2 linked regions of the Homo sapiens genome follow. The protein of the gene in region 2 interacts with the protein of the main gene of each other region in a pairwise test. Each region holds a gene or a part of one and is shown on either strand. Other genes may lie near its edges.

Region 1 (3,600 bases), on a different chromosome or scaffold from region 2:
TAAAGAGCTGGCCTAAACAAGAGGTCAAAAACTCAAGTGCCAGGCTGGGTGTGGTGGCTCACGCCTGTAATCCCAGCACTTTTGGGAGTCTGAGGCAGGTGGATCACCTGAGGTCAGGAGTTCGAGAACAGCCTGACTAACATGGTGAAACCCCATCTCTACTAAAAATACAAAAATTAGCTCGGCGTGGTGGTGGGCGCCTGTAATCCCAGCTACTCGGGGCCAAGGCAGCAGAATCACTTGAACCCGGGAAGCGGAGGTTGCAGTGAGCCGATATCGCGCCGTTGCACTTCCAGCCTGGGCGACAGAGCAAGACTCCCTCTCAAAACCAAACAAACAAAAAAACCTCAAGTGCCTGCAAGGCCAAGCAGATACTGTAGATGTGTAAAGGGTAGCATAGATTGGCAGGGTTGGGAGTTGGGGGCAGGCTGGGCAAACTGGAGTGAGCAAGGCCTACTTATATTTTAATACTTTAAAGTTATTTTTATTAAACTGTCTGCTGTCCAAACATAATACATGTTGTAGGCCAAAATGGCCATGAAGCTACCAGTTTGCAAACCCTGAACTGTGAAATCTTTTAGCCACTTCCCTATCTTCTCTGTTGGAGCCATCATTAGTACTTAAAAAAGTACCTTTGAGTCAGGGAGTTCTATTCTACTCTGTGTTTGTGAGAAATACGGCCCTGCCCCTCTGGGCCACAGTTTCCTCATATGTAAAATGGGGCCACTCATGTCCACTTCCCAACCCCAGTGCCTTGTGGTGAGACTGTTGCTCCGGGGATGACGGTCCCGCCCCTCCTTTCAGGAACAGGCCTTTGAGAGCAGCCAGAAGTACAAAGAGGGGAAGTACATCATTGAACTCAACCACATGATCAAAGACAACGGCTGGGACTGACCCCCGCTCCCCCGACGCATGTGGCTCCAGCCCGGCCTGGCCGCCAGGGAGCGCCACTGGCTTCCCGCCACCCGAAGGGAGCTCTGGACCCTCAGAGCCCCTGCAGAGGACGGATCTAGCTCCTGTATATATATTTTATTGCATGCACTGTGACCTTGGGGGGAGAACAGAAGGGGGACGACGCCCCCGCACCTCCTGCGATCTGGCTGGCTTGGATCTCGTTTTTAACCCGTTCCTGCCCCACCTGCCCTATAGTTATGGCCTGTGTTCTGCTCTCCTGGTCCCAGTGCACCGTCTGCTCTGTGAACTCCTCCCACCAGGCCCTTCTTACCCCACGCGTGTCTGTCCCCCTCGTTCTGTAGCGTTTGTACATAATAAAACAATGGAGTGGAGACAGCTCAGGCTCGCGTGTAATCCGGGAAGGGGGAGCTCAAGCGGAGATTTCCGCCCCTATAGACCTGTGCGGTTCTGAGCCCCGGCGGGGCATGGGGTAGGCACAGCCGTCCAAGCTGGGTCTCCGGGAACCGGGACGGTTTCACTGCTGGCGGAGGTCCTGAGCCCACTCTGGCTGCCTACGCCGTGACCTCGGCTGATCTGCGTCTGCTCATCTGCAGCGTTTGGCCGCCGCCTAGGGGCAGCGTCCCAGGGAGGCAACCGCGCCGCCGGCCTCGCAGCCCCCTCGCGGTCGGACTGCAACTCCCAGCGGCCCCCGCGTGGTCCGTCCGGCTCCTTCGGGCGCGCCTCAGCGCTGAGCCTGCCGGGAAGTGTAGTTCCGAGGGTTCCCCAGCGCGGGACCTTCGGGAAACCCTGGCGCGAGGCGTCAGAAGCTGTCGGACTGTGAGCGCCTTCGAACTTTGGAGGCTTGGCTCGGGATGGAGGTTTTTTTAGCATGGGGACCAGGGAGGACTACGGTGCTCGGGACTGGGCTGCGGCCTCCTCGCGGCCCCGAGTGCCCTGTGAAATCAGCTCAGGCCGCGTCCCTCTAGCCTGCACTTTCCCTCTGTTCACGCTGCTTCCCTCCAGGGCCCGGCCTCCAAGTGAAGGGGGGCGGAGGGCGGTCACCTGCCAGAAGGTCTGGGGCGCCAAGGTGTGTCCCGGGACTCTTGGCTCCGTCCAGGTTCCAGGCCCCGCCCCCCAGCTTATCCCTAGCCGGGGCTCCCCACCGTGGGAACGGGGACCAGCTGGCCGGAAGCGCCAAACTGCGTCCCTGTCCGAGCCCTGGGGATCAATCAAGCCGAGGAGTTAATTATGTAATGAGGGGGCAGGGGGTCGAGGCTAATGAAGCCTCCCGGGGTGGGGAGGGAGGGGAGGAGGGGACCGTACCCAGGTATCCGACCCCCTCTCGGACCCCTTCGAGGCCCCAGGGGTCTCCACCCCAGCCCAACTCCAGGGCCCCAAAGAGGGGAGGGGCTGTGATCCTGGATCTGGAAGGGGCTGAGCTGTGAGCTATAAAGGGGGCATCTCGCAGCACCGGGGGCCCTAAGCAGCGAGACCTGAGGCCAGACGGAACTACAACATGTACCATCCACGAGAATTGTACCCGTCCCTGGGGGCCGGCTACCGCCTGGGGCCCGCCCAACCTGGGGCCGACTCCAGCTTCCCACCCGCCCTAGCGGAGGGCTACCGCTACCCCGGTGAGCGTTGGGACCAGCTCCTGGGTAGGAGAATAGGGGGGCTGTGGCCCTCGGCTGGCTCCTCATTCTTCCCCGGCTTCCAGAACTGGACACCCCTAAACTGGATTGCTTCCTCTCCGGGATGGAGGCTGCTCCCCGCACCCTGGCCGCGCACCCACCTCTGCCCCTTCTGCCCCCTGCCATGGGCACTGAGCCGGCCCCATCAGCTCCAGAGGCCCTCCATTCCCTCCCGGGGGTCAGCCTGAGCCTGGAGAACCGGGAGCTATGGAAGGAGTTCAGCTCTGTGGGAACAGAAATGATCATCACCAAAGCTGGGAGGTGAGGGGCTGGCCAGGGTCCGTGTTTCTGGTGGGGGTCTCTTGGGAAAGGCAGAGTCCCTGGGGAGGGGGCTAGGACTGGGTGGTTCCCGAGGGGCTAGAGCTCTGCCTAGGCCTAGAATCTGACTATGGCCTGGGGCAAGGGTTACTCTGTGGCAGGAATCAGGAGTCACTCTGTGACAAGGGTTAAGGGCCAGTCTGTGGAGTCTGTGGCTGAGTTTAGGGACCAATCTATGGCAAGGGTCATGGGTCAGTCTGGGGCAGGGTCAGGAAGTCCCTCTGGGTTATAGGTTAGTGTGTGGCTTAGACCAGCATCCAGACAAGGACAGGGGGTCAAGGGCCAGCCCATTGACCAGCATCAGGGAAATCTGGCCAGGATTCGGGATCAGTATGCAACTCGAATAGGAGTCAGTATATGACTAGGTCCAGGGTCACCCTAGAGGCAGGGACACGGTCAGTGTTTGACCTTAGATGAGGTCTTTAGCTGGGGCAGGAACTCAAGCCCTAGCATGGAAAGTCCTCGGCCCTACTGCAGGCAGGGTATATTTTTTCTAAAGCAAATTCATCTAAGAGCTGCAGATTCTGGTGCTGGAGATCAGGGGAGGAGAGGAGGGTGGGGACAGGAAGCTCCTAGCAAGAAAGTTAGTCACCCCTGCTTCTGCAAATAGGCTTTGAGGGGTAGGAGTCATGGCTCTGTTCCTAACCTGCTGTGTGACAGATCACTTAACCCGTCTGTCCTGTTTCCCCAAATGTAA
Region 2 (3,942 bases):
TGCCTGGCAGATTTTTTGTATTTTTAGTAGAGACGGGGTTTCACCATGTTAGCCAGGATGGTCTCAATCTCCTGACCTTGTGATCCGCCCACCTCGGCCTCCCAAAGTTTGGGATTACAGGTGTGAGCCACCGTGCCCGGCCGAATATGTATGTTTAGCCAAGCCATTCGACATAAAGCTCCTGCCTCTTTTTAAGGGTCTGTCTCTGGTTTTGACCAGAAGCCCACCTCCCAGCCTGCAGGTTGTAACCCTTTATAAGAAATAAAGTCAGCCTGGCACGGTGGCTCATGACTGTAATCCCAGCACTTTGGGAGGCTGAGGTAGGAGGATCACTTGAGCTCAGGAGTTTAAGATCAGCCTGGGCAACATAATGAGACCCCCGTCTCCACAAAAAATAAAAAAAAATTAGCTGGGTGTGGTGTGAGAGCCTGTGGTCATGGCATCTGGCATGATTTTTATAAAGATAGTTTTATTTTAAGTATAAGAGTAGTTTTTGGGTAAGGTGTGGTGGCTCACCCCTGTAATCCTAGCACTTTGGGAGGCTGAGGTGGGTGGATTGCTTGAGGCCAGGAGTTTGATATCAGCCTGGCCAACATGGTAAAAAATGCAATGATCCTAGCCCTTGCCTCTTCCTGTACTTAAGATACTGTCTGACAGGATTAATGATTATGCTTCTGTGACCTATAAACAGATGTACTCTTGCACCCAAACCTTGATGAGATTTATGCTCTAATGTAACTTCTGAGCACATTTGATGTAATTTCTGAGCACATGGAGAGCCGCCACCACCAGTGTATAAACTGTCGGAAACACTGCTTTGGAGCAGTCTAGCAGAAACTCCCTGAAAGGCTCTCCCGGGTTGCAATTCTTGGTAAGACTTCTGAATAGAACTAACTTTAAATATTTAAAAGCTTGTTTTTTTTTTTCTTTAGTTGACATAACAAAGCATACCTTAGAAGTCTTTTTTTTTTTTTTTTTTTTTTTTTGAGACGGAGTTTCGCTCTTGTTGCCCAGGCTGGAAATGGCGCGATCTCGGCTCACCGCAACCTCCGCCTCCCGGGTTCAAGTGATTCTCCTGCCTCAGCCTCTGGAGTAGCTAGGATTACAGGCATGCGCCACCACGCCCGTCTACTTTTGTATTTTTAGTAGAGACGGGGTTTCTCCATGTCGGTCAGGCTGGTCTCAAATTCCCGACCTCAGGTGATCCGCCCACCTCGGCCTTCCAAAGTGCTGGGATTACAGGCATGAGCCACTGCACCCAGCCAGAATTCTTTTTCCTCTTACAGAAAAGGAAAGGTTTCACCATGTTGGCCAGGCTGGTCTTGGACTCCTCGCCTCAAGTGATCCACCTGCCTCGGCCTCCCAAAGTGTTGGGATTACAGGAGTGAGCCACCGCTCCCGGCCTGTACTTAGTTCTTTTAAAGAGAAAACTGGCAGGGCGCAAAACTGGCCAACATGGAGAAACCTTGTCTCTTCTAAAGAAACAAAAATTACCGGGCATAATCCCAGCTACTCGGGAGGCTGAGGCAGGAGAATCGCTTGAAGCCGGGAGGCGGAGGTTGCAGTGAGCCGAGATCGCGCCATTGCACTCCAGCCTGGGCGACAGAGCGAGACCCTGTCTCAGAAAATAAAAAATAAATAAAGAGAAAAAAATACTGACTTTCAGCACCAACTTGTGGTCCCAGGTAAGTTTCCACGCTGGTACTTTAGCCCTGGGCTCGAACCTGCGGACACGCTGTGGCTGCAACTCCCCGCCCGCCAGACCTCAGTACGCAGCGCGGCTGGTGAGAAACATAATGCACTCTGACTTCCACGCGTGGAATGGGGAGATGGACTGCACGGCGGGCGGACCTGCTCGGGCTGATGGACGGCAGGTGGACTGATGTGCGCAGGGACTGGCGGCAGCGCGGTCAGAGCCAGTCAGCCAAAGCCAGGCCAGCACAATAGACTGTCCCGGTTCCCGCCAGGAGGCGGCCGAGCACCAACTGTACGGTACTGCGCCTGCGCCGCGACCGCCAACGCGCCCAGTCTACGCTTGCGCGGCGCAACAGGGCCGACTGCAGCTGGAAGATGGCGGCGTCCGTGGTCTGTCGGGCCGCTACCGCCGGGGCACAAGTGCTATTGCGCGCCCGCCGCTCGGTGAGGTGGTGGCGAGAGCGCGGGGCTTCGGGACAGGGCTTCGGGAAGCGGACAGGTGTGGGCTGTTAGCAGTGGCAGGTCGAGGTGGGGAGGACGCGGGGTCAGGGCCGTGGGAAGGTCACGGCGGAGGGCGGGGAAAGGTATCTCGCCGCTTGCCTAGGGGCGGGGTTCGGGGGTCCTCCTGAGGACCTGGGAGGTGGGGAGCGATCCCCTGACCGAGTCCTCACTCGCGGCTGTTCCCTTCCACAGCCGGCCCTGCTGCGGACGCCAGCCTTGCGGAGTACGGCAACCTTCGCTCAGGCGCTCCAGTTCGTGCCGGAGACGCAGGTTAGCCTGCTGGACAACGGCCTGCGTGTGGCCTCCGAGCAGTCCTCTCAGCCCACTTGCACGGTGAGTTGGGGACGCTTTTGGGGAGAGGGCCTCCAGGTTGGGCCTGCCGTCTTTTCCCTGGTTGGGGTGTGACCTTGGGCTCGAGTCTTCCCGTTTGTGGTTTGGGTTCGGACCCAGGACCACTCACCCCGAGAATGGCCCCATTCCCTACCCTAGCCACGCCTTGGCTTCACGGGACAATCTTCACTATAAGCCAACATTATTTAGCATATAATGCCCGTTAAGTAGGCGGCCAAATTCTTTTCCAGCCTTTTGTTAAGGAGCCCATATAAGGGAAGTGATCATGTCTCCTCTTATAATGCGGAAAATGGGATTCAGACACCTTAGGTGACTTGCAGGGGTCCAGGTCTGTCAGCCTCACTGCCCAAGGTCATAATCTCCAGGCTAGACCAGAAATACATTTTAGGAAGCAAATGCATTTTAACAGTACAATGAAATGTGTGATTTTCCAAAAAATACAAATTCTCTAAATTGACACAAGAAATCTTGAGTCACAGATAGATATATGAATAGGTGAGAAGATTCCCAAGAAATAATTATCTCCTCCTCCTTTCAGCCCCCAGCCCCAGGGCCAGATGTTTTTATTGACACATCCTTTTAGTTTTCCAGAAACAATGTCCTGCGATTTAAATTGTTACTAAGCATAGGAAAAGGTGGCCTGCAACTTCCTTGTTATATGTCACTTGTTATAGTAAAGAATGCTATATTACATGAACTCTAAAATGTGCTAGATTGTAAGGAGCTGTCTGTGCTCCAGTGCCAGAGAAAGAATCTCAAGAATCTTGCCAATTTTAATCAAAGGATACTATAGATTGTAAAATGCCTCTTGCATTCCAAGATGTTAGATGTGAAATACATGTTCATCTAAGATTGTGTGATATATGGTATATGCATTGACATCTCTTAGGAAAGCAAATATCACATGTTCTCACTTATCAGTGGGAGCTAAAAAATACGTACATACAGATGTAGAGAGTGGAATGATGGACAGTGAAGACTTGGAAGGATGAAGGGGTGGATGATGAGAAACTACTTAATGGGTCCAGGCCTGGAGGCTCACACCTGTAATCTCAGCACTTTGGGAGACCAAGGCAGGCGGATCAGCTGAGGCCAGGAGTTCAAGACCAGCCTGGCAAACATAGTGAAGCCCCATCTCTACTAAAAATACAAAAATTAGCCATGCATGGCACACGCCTGTAATCCCAGCTCCTGGGGAGACTGAGGCAAGAGAATCGCTTGAACCCGGGAGGCAGAGATTGCAGTGAGCCGAGATGGAGCCACTGCACTCCAGCCTGGGTGAGAGAGCGAGAGTCCATCTCAAAAAAAAAAAAAGAAATTACTTAATGGGTACAAGGTTTGTTATTCTGGTGATGGATAATTCAGAATCCCTGATTTGACTACTTGTGCATTCTG

The links. Proteins that work in one complex are often made in the same cells at the same time.
Region 1: the proteins of UQCRC1 (region 2) and TBX6 interact in binary tests that used the Homo sapiens proteins (3 or more experiments, as listed by UniProt).

The regions. Positions count from the first base shown.
Region 1 is NC_000016.10:30,090,004-30,093,603, reverse strand, and holds the start of TBX6 (T-box transcription factor TBX6), read left to right. Parts: upstream 1-1,679; 5' UTR 1,680-1,731; intron 1,732-2,069; exon of another isoform or gene 2,070-2,362; 5' UTR 2,363-2,410; coding exon 2,411-2,528; intron 2,529-2,611; coding exon 2,612-2,846; intron 2,847-3,600. Other genes in the region: YPEL3 (protein yippee-like 3), read left to right, coding at 805-894. UniProt on the Homo sapiens protein: T-box transcription factor that plays an essential role in the determination of the fate of axial stem cells: neural vs mesodermal. Acts in part by down-regulating, a specific enhancer (N1) of SOX2, to inhibit neural development.
Region 2 is NC_000003.12:48,607,749-48,611,690, reverse strand, and holds the start of UQCRC1 (cytochrome b-c1 complex subunit 1, mitochondrial precursor), read left to right. Parts: upstream 1-2,044; 5' UTR 2,045-2,070; coding exon 2,071-2,139; intron 2,140-2,388; coding exon 2,389-2,529; intron 2,530-3,942. UniProt on the Homo sapiens protein: Component of the ubiquinol-cytochrome c oxidoreductase, a multisubunit transmembrane complex that is part of the mitochondrial electron transport chain which drives oxidative phosphorylation.